2 separate regions of the Homo sapiens genome follow, and region 1 is linked to region 2. The links come from fine-mapping of genetic effects on gene expression. Tissue or cell type: thyroid. Region 2 holds a variant in brackets; the other region holds the start of a gene. All regions are shown on one strand. Distances are from middle to middle.

Region 1 (4,103 bases), 51 kb before region 2:
GAGCCTGTGGAGAGCCTGGAATGCCATGCCAAGGCATCTAGACTGTGATCTGGCAAAGAGTAGGAAACCACTGAAGGGATGTGTCATGTTGACAGTGATGCTGGCCGGGCGCAGTGGCTCATGCCTGTAATCCCAACACTTTGGGAGGCCGAGGCGGGCAGATCACCTGAGGTCAGGAGTTCGAGACCAGCCTGGCCAACATGGTGAAACCCCATCTCTACTAAAAATACAAAATTAGCCGGGCATGGTGCCCTGGTCCATGCCTGTAATCCCAGCTTACTCAGGAGGCTGAGGCAGAAGAATCGCTTGAAACCAGGAGGCGGAGGTTGCAGTAAGCCGAGATCGTGCCATTGCACACCAGCCTGCGCGACAAGAGTGAAACTCCATCTCAAAAAAAAAAAAGTGATGTCTTCTGACATTTAGCTTAGCAGCCAGTGCAAGGTAGAAGAGAGAAAAGAACAGTGATACAGAGGAACATAGCAATGCAGACAGAAAAACAAATGAAGGGATGAATGTAAGAAAGGTGTTGGAGGAAAAAGCATAATATGATGACTGATAAAAGACCCTGGGAAACAGATTTGGAAGCCAAGGCCCAAGTTTCAAGTTTGAGTAGCTGGAGGGAAAGATAATTAGTAGGTTTTGGAAGTACTGAAATTTACAGAAATGGTTGTTCATCAGAGTAAAAATATACAGCAGATGGCAAAAAGTAATCCTGGAGCTTAAGATGGAGGTAAGGAAGGGAGTCGCTGCCCTCAAAGAGAAATGGTTGGGGCCGGGCGTGATAGCTCACGCCTGTAATCTCAGCACTTTGGGAGGCCCAGGCGGGCAGATCACCTGAGGTCAGGAGTTCCAGACCAGCCTGGCCAACATGGTGAAACCCCGTCTCTACTAAAAATACAAAAATTAGCCGGGCATGGTGGCGGGCGCCTGTAATCCCAGCTACTCGGGAGGCTGAGGCAGGAGAATCGCTTGAACCCTGAAGGCGGAAGTTGCAATGAGCCGAGATGGCGCCACTGCACTCCAGCCTGAGCGACAAGGGCAAAATCCGTCTCAAAAAAAAAAAAAAAAGAAAAAAGAAATGGTTGGGAGGCCTTCGGAACAGCGTCGAGGAGGGAACTTCCCAGAGCCCCCAGGCGCATCCTCTGGGAACTGGACACACGGGGACGGACGGGACTGGTTTGCTTCATGGAGTATGAAACCAGGAGGGGCTTCACTTCAAGTAAACTTTTGGGAGGCGATGCAAACGACTCAGGACTTCTGATCCTTCCCTCGTCTAAAAGAAAAGTCAGTTACCATTTTTATTGAGTGCTTTCGGGGCCTTTCCATGATCTGACTGATTCCTCTCAGCCGCCCTGTGATGTGAGTGCCAGCTCCATGTTACGTAAGAGGAAGCCAAGGCTCAAACCCTGCCCGAAGTCACACAGCAAGAAATCACGAGCCGTGATTCCAACCCAGGTCCGTCTGACCCGAGCCTGCTCTAATGCCGTTCTGCCTGGGCTTTCCTCTGTTATAGGAACCTGAGGCCCCGCGCCAGCGGCCGGGGTCCCAAGCGCCGGGCTGGCTGTGTCGAGACCACCCCCAGCCCTGGCCCGGCCCTCGCCCTTTCGAGGGAAACCTACTCTCAGAAGCACAGCTCCCCAGCCGCGCCCAACGCCGCGCCGGCCTCTGGCTCGGACCAATCCCCCCGGGACGGTCCACCACCCAGACCAATTAGCTCCCGTCTTCAGGGCACCTCCCACCAAACCGCCTTCTGATTGGCTCGCTCTTCCCGTCACGGCGTTGCCCCAGCAACCGGACTATTGGGACGCTGCGGCCTGGCCTTCAGGCCACTGGCTACCGAACCCCGGGGCTCTTCACCAGTCCAGCTCGTTTCCAGCACCATGTCGGTGCGGACGCTACCGCTGCTCTTCTTGAACTTGGGCGGGGAGATGCTTTACATCCTCGACCAACGGCTGCGGGCCCAGAACATCCCGGGAGACAAGGCCCGCAAAGGTGAGAGGCCCCCGGCCCGCTCAGCCAGACCCGCAGCCAGCAGCCCGGCCCTCTCATCATCGCCCTAACACCCACAGCCAGACCCGCACCCCTACACACTTCACTCTTATAACCAGGGACCTTTCTTACAAGCCACATCCATTTGGAGCCCCTCGGGAGTCAAATCCCCCCAAAAGCTTTTTTCACAGCAGAGGAACTTAATACTCCCAGTGGACACTAGGGTGCCTGACCTCCCTAATTTCCCCATCTCTTCAAATGGGAGAGGTGATTTCCCAGTCTCTCTTGTCAATCAGTGCCTTCCAAATGTAGGAGTCCCAGCTGCCCACCATCTAGTATCATACCCCTTGCTAGTCCAAGCATCCTCTTTACCCCCAAGGAACAGGTTCTGATTTTTTTTTTTTTTTTTTTTTTTTTTTTTTTTTGAGACAGGGTCTCGCTCTGTCGCCCAGGCTGGAGTGTGTGGCACGATCTCGGCTCACTGCAACCTCTGCCTCCTGGGTTCCAGCGATTCTCGTGCCTCAGCCTCCCAAGTAGCTGGGATTACAGGCATGCACCACCACACCCAGCTAATTTTTGTATTTTTAGTAGAGATGGGGTTTCACCATGTTTCCCAGGCTGGTCTTCAATTCCTGGACTCAAACGATCTGCCCCCCTCGGCCTCCCAAAGTGCTGGGATTATAGGCGTGAGCCACCGCGTCCAGCCCAGGTTCAGATTCTTAATTTCTTTATGGTAGTATCTTCCCACATAAGCTGGAGATTGGTCTTACTCATCTCAGAAGTATTTCTAGAAATTTGGTGTTCTAAAATAATATAGATAAATATGAAAAAAATAAGAAAGTTATAAATCTCCTCACAAGTGTTGGAGGGGAATACAATTGTGAAAATAATTATATGAGAGCTTCGAAAATGCAAAATCTGCCTCCCATGGACACCACACTAATCCCCAGAAAAATGACGACTCAGAACACTCTGCCACTCTGTTCCTTTTCCTCTTTTCCTCCCTTCTCGGCAAACAACTTGCTTATACCAAATTTCCTAGGATTAAGTATGAAGGAAATATTATATTTCAAAGTGGAGGAGGAAAAGTTGAAAAGGCAATTGACATGGCCGCCAATTAAAACATTCTCTCCATTAATCTTTGTATGCTCAATTGATGTTCAACATACATATTCAGATGCTAAGCATACATATTCAGATATTAACTATTGTGTGTGTGTGACTGAGTGCAAGTCCATGCATAAAGAGCTAAAAATAACTCCCTATAACATACCCCCTCCATTCATTCTGCACATTGCCGCCAATGAGCTTTCTAAAATGTGTATCTGTCCAAACTTGCCCCTGCCTAAAACCCTTTGTCAGCTTTCCACTGCCATCTGGGTTAAGACCAAGTCCTTGCACAGGCCATTTCAGGGCCCTTCCTTATCTGATCTCTGTCTTCCTCTGCAGTCCCTTCTTCCACCACTGCCTGCCTCCTGTTTCCCAATAATACCAAACTGCTCATAGATCTCCGCTTAAACCATGTTTGTTCGTATTTCTGTGCTAGTAATTCCCATCCCTACATTCTTCCCCTTCAATCCTGCATTATTCGGCTTAAGAATCATCTCCTTCAGGAATCCTCCCCATATGCAGAAAGGGCCTGTGCATGCTCTCATAGCAGCCTGTGCTCCCATAGCACCCCATGCCTGCTCCTCAGTACCTTACCACTGGCCATGCTATACTGAAATGATCTGTGTATATGTCTATCTCCCGCTTGATTGTCTTATTCATCTTTGTACTCCAGCACCTACCATAATTCCTAGACCAGAATAAATTAGTGATCACAAAATGTTTTTTGAACTGATTATCTAAATTGGCAGTTTTATATAGCATTGTCATTTTTCCTTTGAGAGGGTTCTGTTTTCCTTGGTGCCTGTGTGATCTGATTTCATTCAGGCTAGTGGCACCAATGAGGTGACATGCTGGAGTCCTCAGACTGGTAGGTAGTCTGCATCTTGGAAGATAGTGTAAATTAGCAATTAAGAACATACTCTCTAGAGTCTTACAGACCTGGATCCCAATTCCAGCTTTACCATTTAACTAATTGCATGCCCTTTGGGTGTAACCTCTATAAA
Region 2 (4,255 bases):
TTAATAGTGCCAGGAGGCAATCAGGTTCCTAGGCAGAAGGGGCAGATGCCCAGTGAAGCCCCACCTTCAAGCCAGGGGTGGCCTGAAGCCTGGGGGTGGGGCTGCCAGTTCCAGGTGGAACCCAGGACAGGAGTAAGAACTTCATTGATGCCTTCCAGCCAATTGGATGGTACTTTTTCCAGGCCCACCCATGGCCACCCATGGGCCAACCAGCATGCACTTCCTCCATTCTTCGCACATGAAAACCCCAGACTCAGCCAGTCTCAGACACTCCACAGGACCTGCTTGCGGAAAGGAGCCACCCACTTCAGGTCTCCCGAGAGCTGTTCTATCACTCAATAAAGCTCCCTCCAGCTTGCTTACCCTCCAGTTATCCACATAACCTCATTCTTCCTGGATGCGAAACAAGAACTTGGGACCTGCCAAACAGCGGGAGTAAAAGGAGTATAACATATTCCTGGCCAGCTCGCTGAGCTGCGGGTGGTGACACACTCCCAGACTGCAGGAGTGAAGAGTGGTGACCCTTCCGGGGGCCCACCCTCCACCAGCGGGTAGCTGTGCCACATGACAGGAAGCGGTGGCTGGGCCTAGCCAGCCCAGGAACCACGGGCCAGAGCAGGGCAGCACTGAGCGGTAGGACTGAAAGAGCTGTAACACATATGGACTGAAACACGCCCCCGCCCCCCAAGATGCCCCGCCCCTGCTCCTCGTGTGGTGAAGAGCTGCAGCCCTTCTTGGGGCCCAGACCTCCGGGCTCCACAAGCCAGGGCTGTGACACACTGTAACACCCTCTTTGTGGCTCTGTGGTTCCTGGTGTCTCTGAGCTTTCGGCCACCACTGTGTTCCCCTTGTCCAGATGCTGGTGCCCACAGCAGAAGCCACTTACGGTATGTCTGGTCCAGCCGCAGCCTTGCACAGAGCCAAAGCCTGTGCCGGCGCCTGGAGCTGCCAGTGCTGGCCCTTGGAGCTGCCCACCCGCTGCAGCAGCCGGCCTATCTGGCTGTGTGCAGTGGTCGGACCCTGTGCTCACTCGCTCACACATCCCTCACTGCTCCACACCTGGCACGCCTTTGGCAGGCGTGGGATCCGAGCCCGTAGTGCAAGCTGAGCCCAGCCTGCCAGACTGAGCAGGCAGAACGAGCCCAGCAGGCACAAGCAAAAGTCAAGCACAGGCGCTGCTAGCCACAGAGGTTTCCAGATGGCAGAGTGACACCCTAAGGTTCTTGTGACAGCTGGGACTATAGGTGCACCCATTACACCCAGCTAAATTTTTTTTTTTTTTTTGAGACGGAGTCTCGCTCTGTCGCCCAGGCCGGAGTGCAGTGGCGCGATCTCAGCTCACTGCAAGCTCGGCCTCCCAGGTTCACGCCATTCTCCTGCCTCAGCCTCCCGAGTAGCTGGGACTACAGACGCCCGCCGCCACGTCCAGCTAATTTTTTGTATTTTTAGTAGAGACAGGGTTTCACCATGTTAGCCAGGATGGTCTCCATCTCCTGACCTCGTGATCCGCCCGCCTCGGCCTCCCAAAGTGCTGGGATTACAGGCGTGAGCCACCGCGCCCGGCCACACCCAGCTAATTTCTTAAAACATTTTTGGCCGGGCTCGGTGGCTCACGCCTGTAATCCCAGCACTTTGGGAGGCCGAGGTGGGCAGATCACCTGAGGTAGGGAGTTCGACACCAGCCTGACCGACATGGAGAAACCCCGTCACTACTAAAAATACAAAAATTAGCCGGGTGTGGTGGTGCACACCTGTAATCCCAGCTACTTGGGAGGCTGAGGCAGGAGAATTGCTTCAACCCGGGAGGCGGAGGTTGTAAGCC[G/A]AGATCAGGCCATTGCACTCCAGCCTGGGCAACAAGAGTGAAACTCCATCTCAAAAACAAAAAAAAATTTAGAGATGGGGTCTCACTATGTTGCCCAGGCTGGTCTCAAACTCCTGAGCTTAAACAGTCCTCTTGCCTTGGCCTCCCAAAGTGTTGGGATTACAGGTGTGAGCCACCACCCCCAGCCAAGAAGCCTAATTTACTGAGCTTCTTCTCTGTGCCAGATGCTTTCACACATTAATGAAGGTCACTTAAATCTTACAGTTCTCTGAGAAAGGCCTAATTTTTTGTTTTCATAACAAGCAAATTGAGGCTGAGGAAGAAAGTAATTTTTCCAAGGCTATACAGAGTGACTTTTAAAAAATGTAAATCAGGTGGGGCACAGTGGCGTGTGCCTGTAGTCCCAGCTATTCTTGAGGCTTGGGTAGGAGGATCACTTGAGCCCAGGTAGTTGAGGCTGCAGTGAGCTATGATCACACCACTGCACTCCAGCCTGGATGACAGGGTGAGAACCTGTCTCTACAAGTAAATCAAATCACTTCGCTCCCTTTCAATAGCCTGTCATAGCACTTCTAGTACTAGATGAGAAGACTGAGGCACAGAGAAGATACTAACTTGCCCAAAGTCACAATTAGCCAGGAGTAGATTTGAACCTAGGCACTGTATCCGGAGGCTGCACTCCTAACCATGAAATCTAAACTCCTTACCTTGGCTCACAAAGCCCTATATGCTCTGGTTCCTGCTTCCTCTCTGGCCTCTTGTTATACCACTCTCCCCAGCTTCCCTGGCCTTTCCTGTGTTCCTAAATTGTCAAGGTCATTTCCCCCAGGTTCTTTGCATGAACTGTGAAAAGAAAAAATTTAACTTTTAATTGGTGATTTGACTTTTTTTTGCCAAATTTGTTAAATCTGACTTTTATTTGCAACTCTAGAATCGGGCAACACTTCATTCTATAAAATGGAATGAGTGTTCAAATGAGCTGAGCAGAGGAGATTGGTTTTACAGCCAGAAAAGGGCTGAGGAAAGCAGAAACAGAAAACAAAAAGATTGGTTGTTTCAAAGTTACTTTCCTTGTAACTTTGAAGGCTAAAGCAGAGGGGACTTCCTTATCCTGCCAGCTAAAACAGGATGGTTTGGAGATCTAGCTATCTCTCACTCTTCTGATTTATCGGAATATCAGATAAACAACTTAGTTTCCACTTGGTGATGTAGAACTTTAGCATGAGTGACTCCATTTTGGTTCTGTTGGGCTTGGTGCAGGAGCCCTGTTCAAACCAATGGCCTCCAATTTTTTTTTTTTTTTGAGACGGAGTCTTGCTCTGTTGCCCAGGCTGGAATGAAGTGTTACTTTCTGAGCTCACTGCAGCCTCCACTTCCTGGATTCAAGCAATTCTCCTGCCTCAGCCTCCCAAGTAGGTGGGACCAGAGGTGTACGCCACCACGGTGGGCTAATTTTTTCTATTTTTTGTAGAGACAGGGTCTCCCCATTGTTGCCCAGACTGGTCTCGAACTCCTGGGCTCCAGTGATCCTTCCGCCTTGTCCTCCAAAGTGCTGGGATTACAGGTGTGGGCCTCTGCACCCGGCCCTGCCTCCTATAAATTTTACTTAACAAACTGTTCCCGCTAATTGCAATGCTCCTCCCATAGTTTTCACAAGCTTGGCTTCATGTCACTAATCTCAACTCAAATGTCACCTTCTCAGGGCACCCCTGACAATCCAATAAAAGACCACCTTGTCACCATCACATCACACCTTTAATCTTCTGAAGAAATTTTTCCCTATTTTTCTTCTTTGTTTTCTTAAGACTCTCTCCCCTGCAGCGCCATCAGCTCAGGGAGCCACTTGATCTTGGTCACTGCTCCATGCCGGAGCCTGGGAAGGAGCCTGGCCCAGGTCGCCGGTTCAATGAATGCGTGCGGAATGAATGAACGACTCTAGTGAAAGAGACTCCAATGACGCAGGCCGGGATTTGCGGAGCACGAGCCCCGCGCCGCGAAGCATTCTGGGGATTGTAGTTTCTCCGTGACGCGGTGACTTGCAGAGCACTGACGCACTCTGCGCCCGGAGGACAGAGCGGCCCGGTCGCCGGCATGGTTTCTCCGTCCTGCTGCAGCCGGCGGGAGGCAGCCAGTCCAGGCGCCCGCTAGCTTCGGCGGCGACCCAGACGGGGAAAGCGGAAGGAATGTCGCGTGGTGGGTCCGGGTCGGCGGTGCAGGGAGCCCCGGGGCGGAATGCGGGGGATGCCAGGACCTCCGGAAGGAGGTGCCGGAGCCCAGGAAGCGTTTTCTTCCCCATTTACCGAGTATAGCTCCTTTCCCCAGACCCGCTCCCGCTGCTCTGAGTAAGCGGTGCTCATCCCGTTTTACCGGTAGCTTAGCTAGCTTGGAGAAGCTAAGTGGTTTGCTAAGTGATCGCCCTCCTAGGAGGTGGCA

The links. PIP is the estimated chance that this variant, and not a neighbour inherited with it, causes the effect.
Region 1: it holds the start of OSCP1, and the variant in region 2 is fine-mapped to the expression of OSCP1 in thyroid (GTEx, PIP 0.98).

What each region holds. Positions count from the first base shown.
Region 1 is chr1:36,448,147-36,452,249 of GRCh38, reverse strand. OSCP1 (organic solute carrier partner 1) reads left to right here and starts at 1,799. Exons shown (of 10, transcript NM_145047.5): 1 at 1,799-1,992. The coding sequence starts at 1,881. It overlaps LOC107984940 (a long non-coding RNA gene), which reads right to left. Exons shown (of 3, transcript XR_001737976.2): 3 at 2,685-2,792. RefSeq lists a silencer at 1,404-1,673.
Region 2 is chr1:36,397,527-36,401,781 of GRCh38, reverse strand. It overlaps LSM10 (LSM10, U7 small nuclear RNA associated), which reads left to right and starts at 3,874. Exons shown (of 2, transcript NM_032881.3): 1 at 3,874-4,015. LOC124904013 (a long non-coding RNA gene) reads right to left here and starts at 519. Exons shown (of 2, transcript XR_007065797.1): 1 at 364-519. RefSeq lists enhancers at 324-413, 395-990, 991-1,587, 3,305-4,016, 4,017-4,255. The variant G/A (reference allele first, on the strand shown) is at 1,823.